Regions from separate parts of the Homo sapiens genome. Here region 1 is linked to region 2. A link means that fine-mapping ties the variant in region 2 to the expression of a gene that starts in the linked region. Tissue or cell type: sigmoid colon. Region 2 holds a variant in brackets; the other region holds the start of a gene. All regions are shown on one strand. Distances are from middle to middle.

The links. PIP is the estimated chance that this variant, and not a neighbour inherited with it, causes the effect.
Region 1: TUT7 starts here. The variant in region 2 is fine-mapped to the expression of TUT7 in sigmoid colon (GTEx, PIP 0.96).

What each region holds. Positions count from the first base shown.
Region 1 is chr9:86,348,632-86,358,155 of GRCh38, reverse strand. TUT7 (terminal uridylyl transferase 7) reads left to right here and starts at 3,746. Exons shown (of 27, transcript NM_024617.4): 1 at 3,746-3,885; 2 at 4,926-5,476. The coding sequence starts at 4,957. RefSeq lists a silencer at 3,488-3,667 and an enhancer at 3,688-3,897.
Region 2 is chr9:86,400,135-86,411,344 of GRCh38, reverse strand. No RefSeq gene overlaps it. Among named protein-coding and RNA genes, the nearest start is that of TUT7, 51 kb to the right of the region's middle. RefSeq lists an enhancer at 540-1,137. The variant A/G (reference allele first, on the strand shown) is at 5,945.

The DNA.
Region 1 (9,524 bases), 52 kb after region 2:
GAGAGCTTGATCTCCGGCCCCCTCCTCCCCTTCACAGAGGTCAGTTGGTGAAGCTCAAAGTTCTAACCCTCTAATCCTCCAATCACTTGGTCTTTCTGGTGATTAGCCCCATGCTGAGGCTATGTAGGGCCCCCATCCTAAATCATCTCATTAGCATAAACTCAGGAGTTTAGGGGCTCACTATAAACACGGAAAGACACTTCTATCACTCAGGAAATTTCAAGGATTTTAAGAGCTCTATGACAGAAACTGGGGACAAAGGCCAAATATATTTTATATTATACCACTGGGGTAAGAGGAATAAGGGCTGAGATCGGGAGGTAAAGGGAAAGGCCCTGAGTCATTGAAGGATTTTGGTTTTTACTCCCAGAGAAATTGGGAGCCAGTGAAAGGTTTTGAGGGGTAACTCAGTCTGATTTTTAATATGCATTTTCTGGCTATTGTGTCAAGAGTAGATTGGAGGACAAGGTGGAAGCAAGTGATAGTGGTGAGCATTTGGCTGGAAGCAGAGAAAGTAGTGATAAGTTACTGGACTCCAGACAGATTTGAAGGACAAACCAACATAACTTGCTAACAATGTGGATAAAAACCGCTGGCATTTAAGCATTAGAGCTCTAAAAACCGAAAACCAAACCAAACCAAACAAAATAAAACACTGGGGAAAGAATTTGGCTGATAAAGCTATGAATATAATTCCTGTATTTCTGACTCCATGGCTGTATAGAAAAAAAGCACTGGGTTTGTTCAAAGTTGACTTGTCAAGATGTATTACAATGTTAATTTCAAGATAGAATTACAAGAATGTCAAGATGTATTACATGTGTTACAATGTAAACTTCAAGATGTATTACATGTATTACAATGTGAATTTCAAGATAGAATTACAAAAATGCCAAGATGTATTACATGTACTACAATGTTAATTTCTAGATAGAATTACAAGAATGTCAAGACATATTATGTATTAAATGTTAATTTCGAGATAGAATCACAAGATTTCAAGTTGTATTACAATGTTAAGCTCAAGATAGAAAATATATTGTAACATATGGAGCAGTATTAAGGTCCTCTGAACATTGCTTAACAGTATATGGCAGCCTTTGCCCTCACATTTCTGCTCCAGGTTGTTGGAAATATGTCAAGACCGTGAAGCAATCACCATAAAGATTCTGAGAAACTCATTAATCCTTCCAGTGACATCCAAAGAAAACTCAAATCAAAATTTCCAACCAGATTGTAAGAATTCCTAGGACCAATTTAAATATCCATTACAGCATAATATGGACAGAAAAAGGTATATTCTGCTGTCAATATATTTTGATTAGTACTGCATCTTATTTGAGAGAGCCTGATTTGTCCTCAAAATGAATCTTAAAAGCAACCATTAGAATAAAAGAAGTTGGGCTTTGGGAAAGACGTTGAAGAAAACGCAAATTCAAAACGTTTTATTTTTTAAATTTATTTTTGAGAGAGACAGGGTATTGCCCTGTTGCCTAGGCTGGAGTGTGGTGGCACCATCATAGCTCACTGCAGCCTCCAACTCCTGGGCTTAAGGTATCCTCCTACCTCAGTCTCCAGGGTTGCTGGGACTACAAGCAGGAGCCAAAGTGCCTGGCAAAAGTATTTTAAATCGGGCCAGGCCTGGTGGCTTACGCCTGTAATCCTAGCACTTTGGGAGGCCAAGGCCGGTGGATCACTTGAGGTCAGGAGTTCCAGACCAGCCTGGCCAACATGGTGAAACCCCGTCTCTACTAAAAATACAAAACTTAACCAGGCATAGTGGTGCCTGTCTGCAATCCCAGCTACTTGGGAGGCTGGGGCAGGAGAATCACTTGAACCTGGGAGGCAGAGGATGCAGTAAGCCAAGATCGCACCACTACACTCCAGCCTGGGCAACACAGTAAGACTCTGTCTCAAAAAAAAAAAATTAAATCCTTAGAAAGATGTATCCTCTGCTGCTGCTCTAGAACTCTAGGTGGAGGCAAAGGTTGCAGCCAGCGGAGATCATGCCACTGCACTCCAGCCTGGGCAACAGAGTGGCACTCCATCTCAAAAAAAAAAAAAAAATCCTTAAAAGTATGTATCCTCTGCTGCTACTCTAGAACTCTAGGTGGAGGCAGATTTCTAAACCAGTTCTTTTGCACAGGAATTACTGGTTTGGGTGGGGCGTGGTGACGCTGCTGTCTCAGAATTAATGTAATCATGCATCTCCACACTCCCTTTTGGACTATATTTTCAAGGCCACTGTCTGCCTGTTGAAGAGACTATCAGTTTGATCCTCACGTATTTTCACAATCAAAATATCTAAGTAAGGAATTATATAAAAGTTGTAGGAATGTGTTTTATATCACTTTTAGTATAGCCACATGGTTAATAACAGCCTCATATTCAGGGTCTGGATTGCAGCAGTGCCATTTACTTCACTGCAAGTGCTAAATGTCCTCATCTTTAAAAGTGGGATAATGATATAGTCTTCATGAAGCTGTGAGGATTAAAGAAGTTAAGGCTGGGTATGGTGGACCACCCCTGTAATCCCAACACTTTGGGAGGCCAAGTTGGGCGGATGGCTTGAGGTCAGGAATTGGAGAGCAGCCTGGGCAACATAGGAGACCCCTGTCTCTACAAAAATATAAAACAAAGGAGTTAATATTTGTAAAGCCTTCAAAACAGTTATTGGCATAGCCAGAACTTTGTGTGTTATTATTTTAAGACCATTGCTCCACAGGACCTGACAGCTTTCAATTTACATGCTTTAAAAAAGCAGAGAAATGAAAACTGTCGATTTTCCCAACGCTCCCTAATTTCACTAGTTGCTTGATGTTTTTCAAAGCATTTAGAACACTGTAAACAGCAAGGAAGGTCATACAGTAAAGAAAGAAAAAGCAACCCCGAGTTCGAGGTGTGCACTCTTCAACTCAAAAATTCGAATGTAACGCTCTCTGGTCATCCCTTGCCATTACACATATTCTTCGAAATGAACTGATTTTTTTTTTTTCCAAGTAAAAGTAATCCTTACACAACCTAAGAAAAAAGCAGAGCATTTTCCTTGACCACTTTGAGATCTGGGTGAGCAGTGGATGTTTAAATGCTGGCATTTCTACAAGGTCGGCAATTAAGAATTCACGAAAACATTAATCACTACGAATTATCAGAAAAACACCAAGAGCGCTACGAGGCCTCGGAGCCTTTACTCCCCCTGGAAGTAACCGGGGAGCACCCAGGGGCAAAGCCGAGGCCCCAAGCGCGGGGAATGCGGCTTTGCCCGACCGCTGGCTCCGCGTCCCTCTCCGGGTGCATAAGTCTTGGCTCCCGCGCCTCTCCCGAGCACTTAGCCTCCCGAGCAGAGAGGGGAACCAGAGGAGCGTCGAAGCCGGGAGAGAAAAGGGGCGGGCGCCGCTCTGGTAAGAAGTTCGGGCCTGGCCCCCAAGCGCCGGCGAACCGGCTATCCGGCGAGCCAGTAATTAGCCCGCTCCGACGGTTGCGCCCGGTGGCCAGACCCGGCGCCCGACACCTGGAGCGAGTGCGCTGGGGCGCCGGACAGGAGAGGCCAGGCTGGCAAAGGCGCGGGAGGCGGGGTCGGAGCGTGGGCGGGGCACCGCGGGGCGGGGCGCGTCGCTCGTTTCCGGTGTGCGCGGCGGAGCGCTAGGGCGGGGGCACAGTCGGCTCCCAATCGCGCACAATGAGACAGCGCTGAGCGCCGGAAGTGGGGCCGAAGGAAAACACGGAGAGGGAGCCCGGCCGGGACAGGAAGAGGCTGGGGACCGCGGCGAAGGTGGTGAGTGCTCTTGGGCGCCTTCTCCCAACGTCCCTGCCAGACTCGCCTCCGGGCTGATTCTCCAGTTGGTTTCCTGGACTCCAGAGTAGCTGTCCGGCCTGGCCCCGGAGGTACGTTGGTTCCATCCCCCGCCGGCCTCCTCGCACCAGTTTGGGTGACCGAGGAACCCCCAGGCCGGCAGAGGCTGAGCCCTCGGGTTCGAGTCCGTGTTTTCACTTTTTGTCAGACTGCGGGCGCAGAAGACGGGATTTGGGTCAAGACATTCGGCTCTGGCCCCCTGGCCGGCCGGGGGAACCCTGGAACCCCATGGAGACAGCAGGTCACTTCCTGCTTCCTGGTCCCCACGGTGGCTTCTTGGCCAGGAGTGCAGGGACGCCTCCTCTTTCTCCACGTCGGGCTCAAAAGGGTGGAAACTAAGGCAGATCGGTGGTGGAGCGGTCAGATGGGGATTGAAGAGGAGTGTCATTCCTCAGGGAATTGCTGTTCCTGACAAAACCAAACTTGTTTGGGGTTGGAGAACGGGGATTGAGGAGGTTAGATGGAGTTGTCCCTTGATCGGAAACCCAGCCTCTTTAATTACAGCTGCACCTTGGTCGGAAGCCCAGCCCCTCCGTAACCTAAGCGCTCAAAGCCGGTCTGTCCAGAATAGGGGTGGTGAAGGGACGGAAAATTGGAGTTGAGAAATGTAGTACTCCTTTCACGTAAAGTTTCGGTGTATAACACTTACAAGTAATTGCCAACTTAAAAAACAAAAGACTGTTTCGGTAGTTTAGTAATAATATTGGCTTGGGATGAGGTTTTCTTTGAAGAGAAACGCCTTGTTACAGAGGGAAAAGCCGACCATACTTGATATGAGTAATATTCTACTATGCTACAGTTCTGGAACCTATAGAGCTTCTCTTATTCACACATTTAATCTTCATGCTAAATAGTAAGTATTAATTTTCATGAAGAATATTAGAGGACCAAGCCTCCCAACCTCTAGGGTAAAGCACTGATTATTAAGAATGTGATAGAATTTTTATTTTAAAAAAATAGGGAGTTTCTTTCTTACAGGCTTTGGGGCATCTGTACGATAAATTGTTATTTTGTATACTTGTATGATATCTTGTTATATAGTTTGATATTTCCCCAAAATACCTTCTTTCAGGTGCAAAGTAAGAAAATTGAAGTCAAAGACCATGGGAGATACAGCAAAACCTTATTTCGTGAAGCGCACTAAAGACCGGGGGACTATGGATGATGATGACTTCAGAAGGGGTCACCCCCAACAAGATTATTTAATAATAGATGACCATGCTAAAGGCCATGGCAGTAAAATGGAAAAGGGCCTTCAAAAAAAGAAGATAACACCAGGGAACTATGGGAATACCCCCAGAAAAGGACCATGTGCTGTTTCCAGCAATCCATATGCATTTAAAAACCCAATCTACAGTCAACCCGCTTGGATGAATGACAGCCACAAAGATCAGAGTAAGAGATGGCTGTCTGATGAACATACTGGTAATTCAGACAACTGGAGAGAATTCAAACCTGGACCTAGAATTCCTGTTATAAACCGACAAAGAAAAGACTCCTTTCAAGAAAATGAAGATGGTTATAGGTGGCAAGACACAAGAGGCTGCAGAACTGTAAGACGACTGTTTCATAAAGACCTAACAAGCCTAGAAACCACGTCAGAAATGGAAGCAGGAAGTCCTGGTAATGTTTTCCAACTTGTCAGATCACAACCCCAGAGTCAGCAATGTTTTATTCTTTTTCATCCAAATGAGTTTTGTTATTTTCAGCAATTTAGTTTCAGTTTTTCACAGTTTCTGTTTTAAGAAATGGTCACTTAGTGTGATTATTTTAAGGATAGTAATCATGATATTTGAGCAGCTAAAACACATTTCATATGTTGATCCCTTTAAAAGTTTACTTTGCCCCAGGGCTCACTTTACGTCAGTAAACATGTTTTCTGTAACGTGTTTTTTACAGAAGAGGGTAGCTATATGCTCCAGGGGACCATATCGTAATTGCTCAGTGGTTTGTGTGTTTTCAAAATTGTGATTATAATTTTGTATTTGAATAATTAATGTGTTCATAATATAAATGACAGAATATAAAGCTTTTTTTAAAAAAAAAACTTATTTGTTGATGTAAAAACACAGTATACACTGCGTATATCTCCTGCCACAAGAGATATATCTTTTGGATGTAGTGTCAGTGTCCCGAGATGGATAATCTGAGATCTTTGTTTTTCAAAAGGGATCGTGACAAACAGGTTGAGAAACAAGTTTAGAAAGTCAGAAATAGATTCAAGCTTTGCTGTTTGGTTTCAGTAAGACCAAAACTAATTTCTCGGTGCCCTCACATGCTTGGTTAATTGCCCCAAAGGGATAATAAGGAGATAATATGTTTTTCTAAAAGTAAAAAGTAGATTTTATCCATGTGGCAACGATTTCTGCAAACAGGAAGGTTATTTTTATCTAATGGGAGATATATACCGAAATGAAATAAAGTCACAAATTGGATGGAAAAAATGAAACAATATCACAGTTGGAAACATGGACTTGTAAGTTTAGTGGCTGAAAGCGTTTTTTAGTGGTTGTATAGAATGTGTTTCAAACTGGCCAGCACTTTTAAATAAATTTTTTTAGTTTAAATGCATTCAGGGAATATGGACACTTTCTAGATCACCCGATGCCTTTTCTCTTCATGTTATCTCACAGTGGCCAGTTCATACACTGGTTACCTATAAGGTGTTTGAATTTGTGTCCCATGCGTATAGAATACTTAAAAGCCAAAAGGTCGTCTTTTATCTTTACAAGGTCTTAGGATAAAAATGAAAGTCTCAAGCACTTATTAATATTAAATGGGGGGAAATGTGCTACTTGATTTTTTTTCTTTTTTCACAGATACTTCTAGTTGTCAGATCTGTTTATTTATATTTTATTTTATTTTTTGAGACGGAGTCTCGCTCTGTCACCCAGGCTGGAGTACAGTGGCGCGATCTTGGCTCACTGCAACCTCTGCCTCCTGGGTTCAAGCGATTCTCCTGTCTCATCCCCCAAAGTAGCTGGGACTACAGGCACATGCCACCACATCAGGCTAATTTTTGTATTTTTAATAGAGACAGGGTTTCACCATGTTGGCCTGACTGGTCTCAAACTCCTAACCTCCAGTGATCCACCCACCTTGGCCTCCCAAAGTGCTGGGATTACAGGCGTGAGCCACCACATTCAGCCTGATTTTTTTTTTTTTTTTTTGAGACAGTCTCACTGTGTCACCCAGGCTGGAGGTGCAGTGATGTGACCTCCTCTCACTGTGGCCTCTGCCTCCCAGGATCAAGCGGTTCTCATGTCTCAGCCTCCCAAGTAGCTGGGACTACAGGTGCACACCACCATGCCCAGCTAATTTTTCTGTTTTTTAATAGAGATAGGGTTTCTCCCTGTTGGCCAGGCTGGTCTTGAACTCCTGACCTCAAGTGATCGACCTGCCTCTGCTTCCCAAAGTGCTGGGATTACAGGCGTGAACTACCGCGCCTGGCCCTCAGATATTTTTAAATTTGAAAATTAAGAGTATATATTAATATCAAGTAGCAGAAACAGAATGAAGTGTTATAAAGGCGTTAAGTAGTAGGGAGACATAAAACTTAAATCTTTAAGCTAGAAATAGCTTGAGGAATTATCTGATGCAGTACTCTGTTGTAATATATCAAAAATGGAATCACAGTTTTACAAATCAGGCAGCTGCAGCTCAGAGAGGTTAAATTTCCACAGACCTGTTTATGCAGCGCGGTAAATGAGGAAGTAGAACTAAAATTGGGGACTCTGCTACTCTGGCCATTAACTCAGCCTCGCTGGACCTGAAATCCTGACGGCGGAGCCGAATATTTCTTGATAATTTCTGGGCTTTTGATTTGTGTTTTTCTTTATTAAAAATTGTGTATATTTAAGTGTTTCTGTATTACTGTCCAGGTGGGATGTGGGTATTTAATTTTGTTACCTATAGTCTTGTAGAAGTTGATCTTGAAAACCATTTCATTTTATTATTATTATTCTCTTTTTTGAGATGGAGTCTCGCTCTGTAGCCCAGGCTGGAGTGCAGTGGTGCGATCTTGGTTCACTGCAACCTCCATCTCCCAGGTTCAAGCAATTCTCTTGCCTCAGCCTCCTGAGTGGCTGGGACTACAGGCACGTGCCACCACACCTAGCTAATTTTTGTATTTTTAGTAGAGTTGGGGTTTTAGCATGTTGGCCAGGGGTAGTCTCGATACCCTGACCTCATGATCTGCCTGCCTTGACGTCCCAAAGTGTTGGGATTACAGGTGTGAGCCACTGCACCCGGCTGAAAAGCATTTTAAAAAGAAAGTTTATAGATCAAAAATTTGCAACTAGACATTAAAAGGAACTGTTGGCTGACCACAAAAACTTTTATATGTTTTCTTATTTTATGTGTATTCTTATAAAAGCAACTAAAGAAGTTGCTTTTAAGTGTATTTGAATAGGAAATGCATTTTGCTATTTTTTTATTGGAGGTAATTCAAAAGTTTGCATGTTTTTGCTGTATGACATACAGGTATATGCTTTCACAGTTATTAAGTAAAGAATTATTCAGTTTCTATCCCTTGAAAATCTTCATATAGGAAGCATTAAGCTTCGGTATAACATTATTTAGTTTAGAGAGATTCAACTGAAAGTATAAACTAAAAAGGATCTCATTAAAGAGATCGAAATTTCTTTATCAAAATTGTGTCTTAATAAGGAAGGGTATTATTCAACAATGTGAGAAGATATAATGGAAATTATGGTGGAGTTGCTTTTTTCCCCCCCACATACGGTACTACCTTCTGTTTTTTTCAGCTCTACATTACTGCCCCTACTTTAGCCTTCAAATGTCCTAGATTGCCAGTTTAATGTATTTGGGACATTGCCATTAATGATCTTAGCTGGAAAGCATCCACTCAAATACACATGTCCTTTGTGAACCATATGCAAATAAAATATGGGAAACTTGGAATGCCGAATATAGAGAACTCTTATTACAATAAATCTGAGGTAAGCCAGGTAGTCTTCCTCCAAGTAATTATGAGAATTTTTCTTTTTTCTTTTTTTTTTTTGAGATGGAGTTTCACTCTTGTCGCCCAGGCTGGAGTGCAATGGCATGATCTCGGTTCACTGCAACCTCTGCCTCCCGAGTTCAAGCAATTCTCCTGCCTCAGCCTCCCGAGTAGCTGGGATTACAGGTGCCTGCCACCACGCCCAGCTAATTTTTGTATTTTTAGTAGAGACAGGGTTTCACCATGTTGGCCAGGATGGTCTCGAACTCCCGACCTCAGGTGATCCACCTGCCTCGGCCTCCCAAAATGCTGGGATTACAGGCATGAGCTGCCACGCCTGGCCAAGAATTTTTCATCAGTACCTAGCTTTACCCTCCAAGAGTCCCTCCGGTGAGATTTTGACAGTTTTTACCATGCATGCCTGTGAAAGTAGGTTTAGAAGGTTATATTGCCTTTCAGTGCTAGTCCACTCTAGATGTGAATGGGTATGTTCCAAGAAGGGATTTTAGTAATTTCTTTCCAGTTTTTATGTTGTTAGTTAGAAGGCTGAATTTCAGGATTTCATCCTTTTTTTGTTTGTTTGTTTTTTAGACAGAGTCTCACTCTGTCACCCAGGCTGGAGTGCAATGGCGCAATCATGACTCACCACAGCCTCACCTCCTGGGCTTAAGCAGTCCTTCCGTCTCAGCCTCCTGAGTAGCTGGGACC
Region 2 (11,210 bases):
CAAGAAAAGCAGTTGTAAAGGTTGTTTTGTTTCCTTCTATTTAATATCTAGTTAAAATCTCCTATTTCCTTACATTTTCCTCCTTGTAAATTATACTAAATGTCTTTTCAATCCTTGGCTAAAACAGATAAACTGATAACTTGGAATTTTCTACTCACAGTATAATGAAGAACTCTAAAGAACTCATTTAAAAAATTGGGAATAAGAAGATTACATGAGATGATATCAAAATCTTTACAGGGGGCTATAAAAAGGAAAAGTTTAAGGAAGACAGGTTCCCATCTGAAATTGGAAAAATATCTTTGTGAGGCATTAGAGGAATCTCAGTTCACTACATAAAAATCAAGAAGAGTTTTTCTCCAGTATGAATGGGTGAGTTTGCTTTGGATGGAGATATCAAGGCTGATGTGAAAACCTGGCCCATGAAGCATGCTTATAAAATGATGATGCTGATTCCACACTTGGCCCACACAAGATTGTCTCGGTAGCCTGATGCTAACATTGCTTTCAGATTATACATCATAATTTTTCAAGCACCCACATCTTGGTTACCTAATTTGGTCCTCCTGAAATGCCTATAGTGTAGATGAGACCAGGATTGTCCTTGACTGTACTGTTTTGTGGCTTTTGAGTAGGGAAGCTGGACTCATCTTGTTTTCCTCTCCATCTTAGCCTCCCAGTGTCATGGACATGGTAGCTATGCCAGCACAGGTCCAGGGGTCTCTCCCGCCTTCCCCCAGACCACTGCACATCCTGGGGCACGTTTTACACCACTGCAAATCCTAGGAGGTGAATGTGGCCGGGGCCCTAATCTCAGCTGGAGGCTTCTAGCAGGTTTGATGGAAACAGCTTGCAGCTCTGAGCACAGCTTGATCACCATCTGTGCCCATCAGCAAGTTAAATAAACTCCCTGGGCTTCACATTCCTCTTTTGTAAAATGAGCACATAGATTTGCATGATCTTTAAGGCAGTGGATTCCAGAAGATGAGTCCATGGATCAGTTTGAAAAAAAAAAAAATTAATTGGCCGGGTGATGTGGCTCACGCCTGTAATCCCAGCACTCTGGGAGGCCAAAGCGGGTGGATCACGAGGTCAGGAGATCGAGACCATCCTGGCTAATGCTGTGAAACCCTGTCTCTACTAAAAATACAAAAAATTAGCTGCACGTGGTCGCGGGCGCCTGTAGTCCCAGCTACTCAAGAGGCTGAGGCAGGAGAATGGCGTGAACCCGGGAGGCAGAGCTTGCAGTGAGCCAAGATCGCGCCACTGCACTCCAGCCTGGGCGACAGAGCGAGACTCCATCTCAAAGAAAAAAAGAATTAATTTTGGGAATTCACATGGGCTTGCCAACTCTTTGTTGTTTGAAATACATTAAAGGGCCAGGAGTGGTGGCTCATGTCTGTAATCCCTGCACTTTGGGAGGCCGAGGTTGGCAGATCACTTGAGGTCAGGAGTTCAAGACCAGCATGGCCAACAGGGTGAAACCCCATCTCTACTAAAAATACAAAAATGAGCTGGGCATGGTGGCGGGCACCTGAAATCCCAGCTACTCAGGAGGCTGAGGCAGGAGAATTGCTTGAACCCGGGAAATGGAGGTGGCAGTGAGCCAAGATTGCACCAGTGTACTCCAGCCTGGGCTACAGAGCAAGACTCCATCTCAAAAAAAAAGAAAAAGAAAAAAAGAAATACATTAAAGATAACAACTCTGATCATCCCTCCTCCCACGCTGGTTCCAACCAGTGGAGAATTGACACTGAGATCCAGATGAAGATCAAAAAAAAACAACTTTATTAGTGGATTGGTCAAGTGCCTAATGCCTGCAGAGTAACAGAGGGTCTCTTAAGGCAGACTAAGGAGACACTAGCTGGCATCTCTCCATCAGTGAGATTTCATAAACACACCTGAAGCCAGTGGGCAGAGTAATCTCAGAGCAGTGCCCCTTCCACCTCCACAAAGCTGAGCCCTACTCCCATCCCATGCTTCTCCTTGTGTCTGCTTCTGGGATCTGTAAAATGGGCAGCTCAGCTATTGCCCCAGAAGGCTCTGAAATCAGTAAGGACAGAATTAAGATAACTTTGCTGGGCATGATGGTATATGCCTGTAGTCCTAGCTACTCAGGAGGCTGAGGTGGGAAGATCACTTGAGCCCTGGAGTTCGAGACCAGCTGGGGCAACATAGCAAGACTCTGTCTCTAAAAACATAAAATGAAATAAAATAAAATGGAAAAAAAGAAAGAAGAAAACTTCAAGACTGCACACACTGAAAGCCAAAATTCATTGCTTTTTAAATTTTCCATCTCCAATTATATTCCACCTAATACCCAACATAACTCATGACATTTTATAATAAACACCACATGAAAGTCTAAAATGTTCCAAATAAGGCAAAGCCAACCACACAAAAATGCCCAAATTTACATAAACTCACATCAGTGATTACAGTTTCAAAGAGAGGTTGAAGTCTAAAGATGAAATCCTTTGACTTTGGTAAATTAAAGGCTGAAGACATTAAGGTTCAACATTTTCTCTCACTTGATTTGGGGTATAGTAGAAACTTCTCAAGAACATAATCCTGACAGCAAAACTGTCTCTTTCGTAAGTGCTACAGACAGAGGATTGTAGGATCCCACCAGCACAAAAGGCACTTTCAAGAGCAAGCCAATAGTTTGAGGTACAATCCACAAGCGAGCTTCCAATGGGAGGGATCTTAAGGGAGCAGCCACTGAAATAGTGCCCAGGGACTGGGTAGGCACCCCATACCTCTTTCTTGGTTGCAATAGCTGTTTCTCAGCAGAGATACAGAATTTACCCTGGGCCTCTGTGCACTCTCCAGCTCTGTGCTCAGGAAGATGCTAGAATTGCCCACAAAACTTTAGGCCATTCCCAGAACTATTCATATTAATGTGGCAGGTACTGGCTACCATGCTGAGGGTTTGTCTCAAATCCCTTAGAGAACAAACAGTTAAATACATGCAATAGAATATGACTCAGTCTTAAAAAGGGAGGACATTCTGACACATGCTACAACATTGATGAACCCTGAGGACTTAGGCTAAGCGAAATAAGCCAGATACAGAAAGATAAATACTGCACAATTCCACTTACATGAGGAATCTGGAGCAGTTAAATTCATAGAGAAGTCTGGGTGCAGTGGTATTCACCTATAACCCTAGCACCTTGGGAGGCAGAGGCAGGCAGATTGCTCAAGCTCAGGAGTTTGAGACCAGCCTGGGTGACATGGTAAGACCTCACCTCTACAAAAAATACAAAAATTTAGCTGGGCATAGTGGCACATGCCTATAGTCCCTGCTACTTAGAAGGCTAAGATGAGAAGATCACTTGTGGCCAGAGGTTGAGGGTGCGGTGAGCCAAGATCGTGCCACTGCACTCCAGCCTGGGCAAAAGAGTGAAACCTGTCTCAAAAAAAAAACAAAAAAATCATAAAGACATGCAGAATGGTTGTCAGGAACTGGGAGGAGATGAGAATGGGGAGTTATTGTTTAATGGGCATAGAGTTTCAGTTTGGATAGTAGCAATGATAGCATAACAATGTGAATGTACTTAATGCCATTAAACTGTGGATTTAAAAATGATTAACGTGGTAAATTTTATGTTATGTGTATTTTACCAGCATTTAACACTTTAATCTTCAATAAAAAAAAAATCCTTCTTAGCCCAGCTGTGGAATTAAGAACACTTATGATTCTTTGGATAACTCTAAGCTATCCAATGCTGGCAGGTTGCAATGAAATTCAAGGCTTCTTGAGGCTCTTTTAGTGAATACCGCAGCTTACCCAGCACCCCCCTGCATTCCCCATGTTGATCCATGGAGGAAAGATCTTCCTCCCCGCACACTTCTACCTCTAGACCAATGCGGGGAGGAAAGCTTCCACTCCACTTCCCTGCCATCCAAAAGGAAGAGAAGTACTGAATCTGATGAGTGAGGGCTGGCATCACAGTGCATGGTTCCCCAGTGGGCAAGGTACAGAGTCAGTGTTACCTGTAAATGTCTTTATCTTTGTGTAGCCAGCAAGCTGAGCAGGGCTGACCTCAGCAAATCTGTAATTCACTTTCTGCTCCACCCCCTCTGCCCGTGACCAGGAATGAGTCAGAAGGACCTTGTAGAAGGGACCTGTCTGAATCTGGTTTCAGGGGAGAAAGTAGAAGGCTGCCCTCAGGCCTGCCAACTAAAAGTCCATATCGCAGCTTCACGAGAGCTGGCCTGGAAGCAGGGCTTAACTAGGTCAAAAATGGGACTTTGATTCCCATCTGGATGTCAGTTTCTTGAGGTGCTTCTCCTCTGGCAGAAAAGGGGGCAGAAATGAGAGGGTAAAGGAGAATGGTCTTATTCCCCTAAAATCACCATGAAATGGTCTTTTAAAAATAAGAAAAGTAGGACACATGTTCTAAAGAAAAAAAATTTTTTCAACTGAACACATTTAGCTTTATACAAAGCTCACCTTGTTTCTTTGTCTCTCATTTTGTCCAAATTGTTAATTTCATAATTATCACTAGTCCATGAACCTGCATTTGAGAAATCTTTGAGAAGCATTCCTCTGAAGTACGTTTTTGCTCTCAAAGTCTGTGACATAAATAACTATCACTTCTGCTTCCATCACCCCTCCCAGAACCCGTCATTGAAAGAAGACTAGAGCAGAAACTACGGTTTAGTGCCTTACAGAATGCTTTGTACAAATAAATACTCAACAAATTTTTAAAATACAGCCTGCCCCCTGTGTCGGGGTGACTCAGGAACCCATCTGACCTAAAGTTCCATCTGTTTTTCTGAATCCAGAGTCCAGACACTCACGTGCAGATGAAAAAAAGTATCAGGAGTGGCACATTCCTGAGCCACACTGCACCAAAGATGATTTCACAATAGGTACCAGGTTTACTTTTGTTTCATGAGTCTGCCTGCAAATTCAAGTTTCTCTGGTTCATCTCCTTTGCATTAGTATGTGTTAATTAAAGTGAAATTAGCACGTCTTCCTGAAGCTCTGGCCCTCATTGTATACACACCAGGACTAACATTAAGCTACCTTCACTTCGTGCTCTCTAGGCATTGGGGTTCTTCAGGGCTCATATTTTTTTCTCTGAGAATTATTAGCTCATTCTGCCTACCATGTTCCCCAGCAGAGAGGGAGGAAGAGAACGCTCTGTGTCCCCCACCCCCACACAAAAAGCCATTCTTTTCTTTGCAAGCAACTGGTACATGTTTTCAGCTGACATGTCCTAGATTGTTCTAAAAAGAGCAGCGGCAAGATAAATTGCAAGAACAGATGATTCAAAGACTCCCTGGGAAGTACCACAGCCAGCTCATAATTACAAATGCAGGGTAGGCGGAACATCTGTATCCTGAGTCACTCTGCTTTTCTAGAAGGGAGAATGTCATTAGCCCTCCTGCTGCAGGAACTTTTGAGATCTGTAAGCAGGTTCCAGAACTGGTTCACGGTGTGCTCTGTCCTCTTGAGGCTGCAAGTGACCCTCTCCCCACCCCCGTACAAATTTAACATACCTTGAAGTCATTATAATTAATTACCAGCTGACTATAGCCCAGAGAGCTTCTAAGTCTATATTTTGAATAATAACTCTGCAAAGGTAATGTGCATGTGTTTTGGGGGGAGAACGATAACCTTAAAAATCTTATAAGTGTTTCTGAGCTTGGTTCTCTAATGCCTGGAATGATACAAATTTAGGGGCATTGCCTTTTATGGGAAGAGATACTAGGAAAAAGTAAAAGGAGAAATGGGTTTTTCTGGAAAACTATAAGAACAATTATCTTAAATGAGAGATAGTTGAGGCTCTGGGGTTAATGAATAAAAAAAGATGATGGCAAAAGAAACATAAGACATTGATGAGTGAAAACAAGAGCTAATAGTTTTGGCAGAGCCAAGTTTACCAGTGTGTTGGCAGGAGTTACTGTTCCTTCTTGTGTGATTTCTTTG[A/G]GGACATTGCACTGTTTATACAGAGAGTGTAAACATAGCTGTTGATTTAACTAAACACTGTTTTTTGTTCCCCGTCTCTCACAGCCATGGTAAATAGCCTAATATTTAAGCTCAGAGGCTTTGATGTGAGTTAAGGTAAGATTCAGTTGTGCTGGTCATAGCTGTGCGCCTTAGAACAAACTTCCTACCCTCTCTGAGTCCAGTTTCAAGATTGCTACAGGAATCACAATCCTATCTGTCTCAAAAAGCAGTTTTAAGGATATAATGAGGCAATGTGTATAACCACCAGAGTATAATTTCTGGGACACAGCAAATCCTTAATGAATGTTGGGGTGAAGTGGGGTGGCACTTTGCTGTTGTCAATTTATCTAAATAAAGTCCCCACTTACAAACACCTAGTATAGAATAAAACTAACGGTCTCCAGGGTCAGCGCTAAAACCTCAGACTCTGAACAGTATCACACAAAATGCTTGCATAAGGTAGCTTTTCACAAAGAAATGCGACGAACCCTGGAAGAAAAACTGAGGATAACAGAAATGTCCACTTAGGACATTTAGACAGACCCACTCAAGTGTTTGTGAAGGGAAGATGGCACATTACCATCAGGTCTTTCTGAGCTGGCCGCAGGTCCTATCCGGGGATTCTAGAAATTAAAATGGCCTGACATGAGTCTGATTTTGCCCAAGCATCCTCACAGGACCTCTTGAGAATGTAATCATTCTACTACTTTGTCTGAGGGTAGAAACAGGGAAACAAGGGAAAGCTGGAAAGTGATTGTAGGAAGGCCCCGTAATGGGACCATGGTAGGAGGAATGTGTCTCAGGAAAGGTGAGAAAGTTATTCTCACTTCCTCTCATCATTCTCTTCATCAACCTCTCCTCAGACGGCATGGGCTAGGGCACTGGACATCCTCCAAACTTGATCAGTTATATGATATCACTCTAATATAACATAATGTTCTTAGTCTATTTTGGCTTTTATAACAAAATACCATAAACTGGTTGGCTTATAAACAACAGGAACTTATTATTTCTTACTGTTCTGGAGGCTGGAGTGTCCCAGATCAAGACACTGATAGATTCCATGTCTGGTGAGGGCCTGCTTCCTGGTTCTTCTCACTGTGTCTCACATAATGAGGGCGTTCTATGGGGTGCCTTCTAAAGGGGCACTAATCCCATTCAAGAGGGCTTCTTCATCATTGCCTAATCACCTCCCAAAGCCTCCACCTCCTGATACCATCACCTTGGGGGTTAGGATTTCAACATACCCATTTTGGAGGTACACAACATTCAGCCCATAACAATAATGAAATTGTATCCTTTTAGCAGCAGGTACCAGAATTCATCTTGTACAGGATCCATCATTGTTGGGAAAAGACCCTGGGTCAGCCCACTTCAGCCAGGGAGGTACCCATGGGGTCATGGATGTTGGCTGGCACTGTGGCTTCCACAAAATTATCCTGAGAAGGGTGAGATGTCTGTGACACTCCTGAAGTGAAGGAGGAAGAAGAGACTGAAGGAAAGAGAAAGTTAAAAGAGAGAGAAAAAAGAAGAGTCAATGCAGTGATAAAGAAGACAGCCCCTCAAAGTCTCACCAAAGCCACTAAGCCCATAAAGGCTTGGAAGTGGGTTAAGAGTATGAGTGGGGTTTGTGTCCAAGTTGACAGATCATAAAGCAGAAAAAATACAGGCAGAAGTAGAGCTAGAAGGCAATGTGGCCTCAGCTGCTAGCTGGGTTACATAAAATATCATATGATTAAACACATAGTAAGTCCTCACTTAACGTTTTTGATAGGTTCTTGGAAACTGCGACTTTAAGCAGAACTATGTGTAGCAGGTCCTCAAATAGCATCGTTTTGTTCAACATTGTTTTATTATAACGTTGATTAAAAAAAATTGGTTTTGTCACACATCATTTTGCTTAAAGTCACAGTTTCCAAGAACCGATTGAGGTCATTAAGTGAGAACCTACTGTATGTATTTCTACTAAAGGCTCAAAATATTAAGGTGCAAAAAGATCTAGAGATGAGACAGTGTGTAAGTGGCATGCCAAGCAGAGGGAACCCCCGTGCAGATGCACAGAGACAACCATGAACAAAGTCATGCACCCATCAATATTTGCTGAACTCCTGCCATGTGCAAAGGAACTATGCCAGGCTGTGGAACCCCATGTTGAGCAAAACCAGAGTCCTGGCATTCACACACCAATGAGAAAGACAGACACTAATCAAGTCACTGCACAAAAGTCTATAAAATGACAGTGGTCAGGAGGGCTATGCAGCCCTCTCATGGTGCAATGAGAGAATGAACAGGGAAGCTGGCCTCGCCAGGGGGATCAGAGACCTCTTCCACAAATAAGCAATGCTTGGCCTGAGAACTGAATGATGAGACCTTAACTAGGTGAAGAAAATAGAGCAAAGCACCCCAGGAAGAGGAATATGGGTGGCAAGTTGGAGGACTGAAAGAATGCAATGTGTGTTTAGGGCAAAAAGAACGCTGGGGAGAATGAGCAGCATGAAGCCGGGAGGTTGGAAGGAGCAGGTTTCTCAGGGGCTGCAGACCACGTTACCAAGTTTAGTTTTTACCATCAGGGAGAGAGGAAGTCACTGACAGGAAACTGATAGGAACACCCAAGAAAGTCTGAAAATGGCAGATGAGTCCTCTGCATATGCATAAACTGTGTCTCCACTTTACTTAGCATCTCCATAAACTATAAATTTGGCTTACCCTGAGTTGCTGGGCATGCCCCAAATGAAAAAATATTTAATTAACATCATTAACTTAGAAGGTTGGGCACAGTGGCTCACACCTGTAATCCAAGGACTTTGCGAGGCCGAGGCAAGAGGATTACTTGAGCTCACGAGTCAGAGACCAGACAGGGCAACATGGCAAAACCCCATCTCTACTAAAAAAAAACAAAAAACCTGGTGGGTGCTTGTAGTCCCAGCTACTCAGGAGGCTGAGGTGGGAGGATCGCTTGAACCCGGGAGGTGGAGGTTGCAGTGAACTGAGATTGCACCACTGCATTCCAGACAGCCTGGGTGACAGAGCACGACTCCACTTCAAATTTAAAAAAAGACAAAAAGTAATAGAAGGAAAAAATTTTAGCTTACTAACTGCATTGCCATAATCAGTATTTTTAAAATGAGTTTTCTATCAATACACAAGAAAAACCCTAAATTCTGAACTACCACTGAAACGTAAATACCCAGGATGTGAATTCACAATTTAATGTTTAATTTTTAGTGACTTGAAGAATACTGATCAAACAGCCGGAGTTCTATTTCTTTTTTTGTTTGTTTGTTTGTTTGTTTGAGACAGAGTTTTGCTCTCATTGCCCAGGCTGGAGTGCAATGGTGCAATCTCGGCTCACGTTACAACCTCTGCCAGTTTCAAGTGATTCTCCTGCCTCAGCCTCCTGAGTAGCTGGGATTACAGGTGCCCGCCACCATGTCCAGCTAAATTTTTTGTGTTTTTAGTAGAGATAGGGTTTCACTATGTTGGCCAGGCTGGTCTTGAACTCCTGATCTCAGGTGATCCACCCGCCTTGGCCTCCCAAAGTGCTGGGATTGCAGGCATGAGCCACCGCACCCGGCCCAGAGTTCTAATTGTGACTCTGCCTCTTATTAGTCACATAGCCTTGCACAAGTCTCCAAACCTCTCTCAGTCTCAGTTTTCTCATCCATAAAATGGGATAAAATGGGTCCAATGTGCCCCACAGTATTAAAAGTGAGATTCTTGGGCAGGGCGTGGTGACTCACGCCTGTAATCTCAGCACTTTGGGAGGCTGAGCCAGGCTGATGGCTTGAGCGAGTAGTTCGAGACCAGCCTGGGCAACATGGTGAAACCCCATCTCTACAAAAAATACAAAAATTAGCCGGGTGTGGTGGCATACACCTGTAGTCCCAGCTACTCGGGAGGCTGAGATGGGAGAATCACATGAGCCCAGGAGGTTGGGAATGCAGTAAACCGAAATCGCACCAGTGCACTCCAGCCTGGGTAATTGAGGGAGACTGTCTCAAAAAAAGAAAAGAAGCAAGTAAGAGCCTTTTGTAATAGAGTGATATACCAGACAAAGAGATTATCATTAACCTTTCTCCAAATTTGCATGGAGAAAATACAGAACTGTAGAACTTATTCCACTCAGATAGTGACTTTTTTTAACTTCATGCCTCAAACTGTTTTGTAATATTGTTACAAAATCATGCTTTATCTTTAAATCCATTGTTCTCTAATACATCATAAAACTATTTCTTATGTACGTGAAGCCACCAAGATAGAGATTCTTTGGGAAAAAAAGTTTTGTTTCATTTTATTTCAGCCCTGATGAATAATTCAATTCCAATATTATGACCAAAGTTTTATATATATTTTTAAAAAGGAAAAGAACACATGAGGCTGGGTGTGGTGGCTCACGCCTGTAATCCCAGCACTTTGAGAGGCTGAGGCAGGGGGATCACCTGAGGTCAGGAGTTAAAGACCAGCCTGGCCAACACGGTGAAACCTCATCTCTACTAAAAATACCAAAAATTAGCCCTCCACCACACCTGTAATCACCGCTGCTCAGGAGCCTGAGGCAGGAGAATTGCTTGAACCAGGGAGGCGGAGGTTGCAGTAAGCCAATATCGCACCATTGCACTCCACAACAGAGTGAGATTTTTGTCTTAAAAAAAAAAAAGAAAGAAAGAAAAGAAAAAACATGAAAAGATGCTCAACTCATAAAAAAGAAGCACATGTTAAAACTATATGAGATGCGGCTGGGCGCAGTGGCTCACGCCTGTAATCCCAACACTTAGGGAGGCCGAGGTAGGTGGATCACGAGGTCAGGGGATTGAGACCACCCTGGCTAACACAGTGAAACCCCGTCTCTACTAAAAATACAAAAAAAACTTAGCAGGGCGTGGTGGCGCTCGCCTGTAGTCCCAGCTACTCAGGAGGCTGAGGTAGGAGAATGGTGTGAACCCAGGAGGCGGAGGCTGCAGTGAGCCGCGATCGGGCCACTGCACTCCAGCCTGGGCGACAGAGCAAGACTCTGTCTCAAAAAAAACAAACAAACAAACAAACAAAAAACTATATGAGATGCTATTTTGCACCTATCAGATTGGCAGAAATGTAAACTCTTGACAAACAAGAGAGGTTGTGGGAAAGCACACGCTCTCCTTCCCTCCTGGGCGGTACAAAATGTTACCTACGGAAAGGAAACGGGCAATATCTAGCAAAAGTACATTTGCAGTTTCCCTTTGATCCAGAGATCACGCTTCTATGA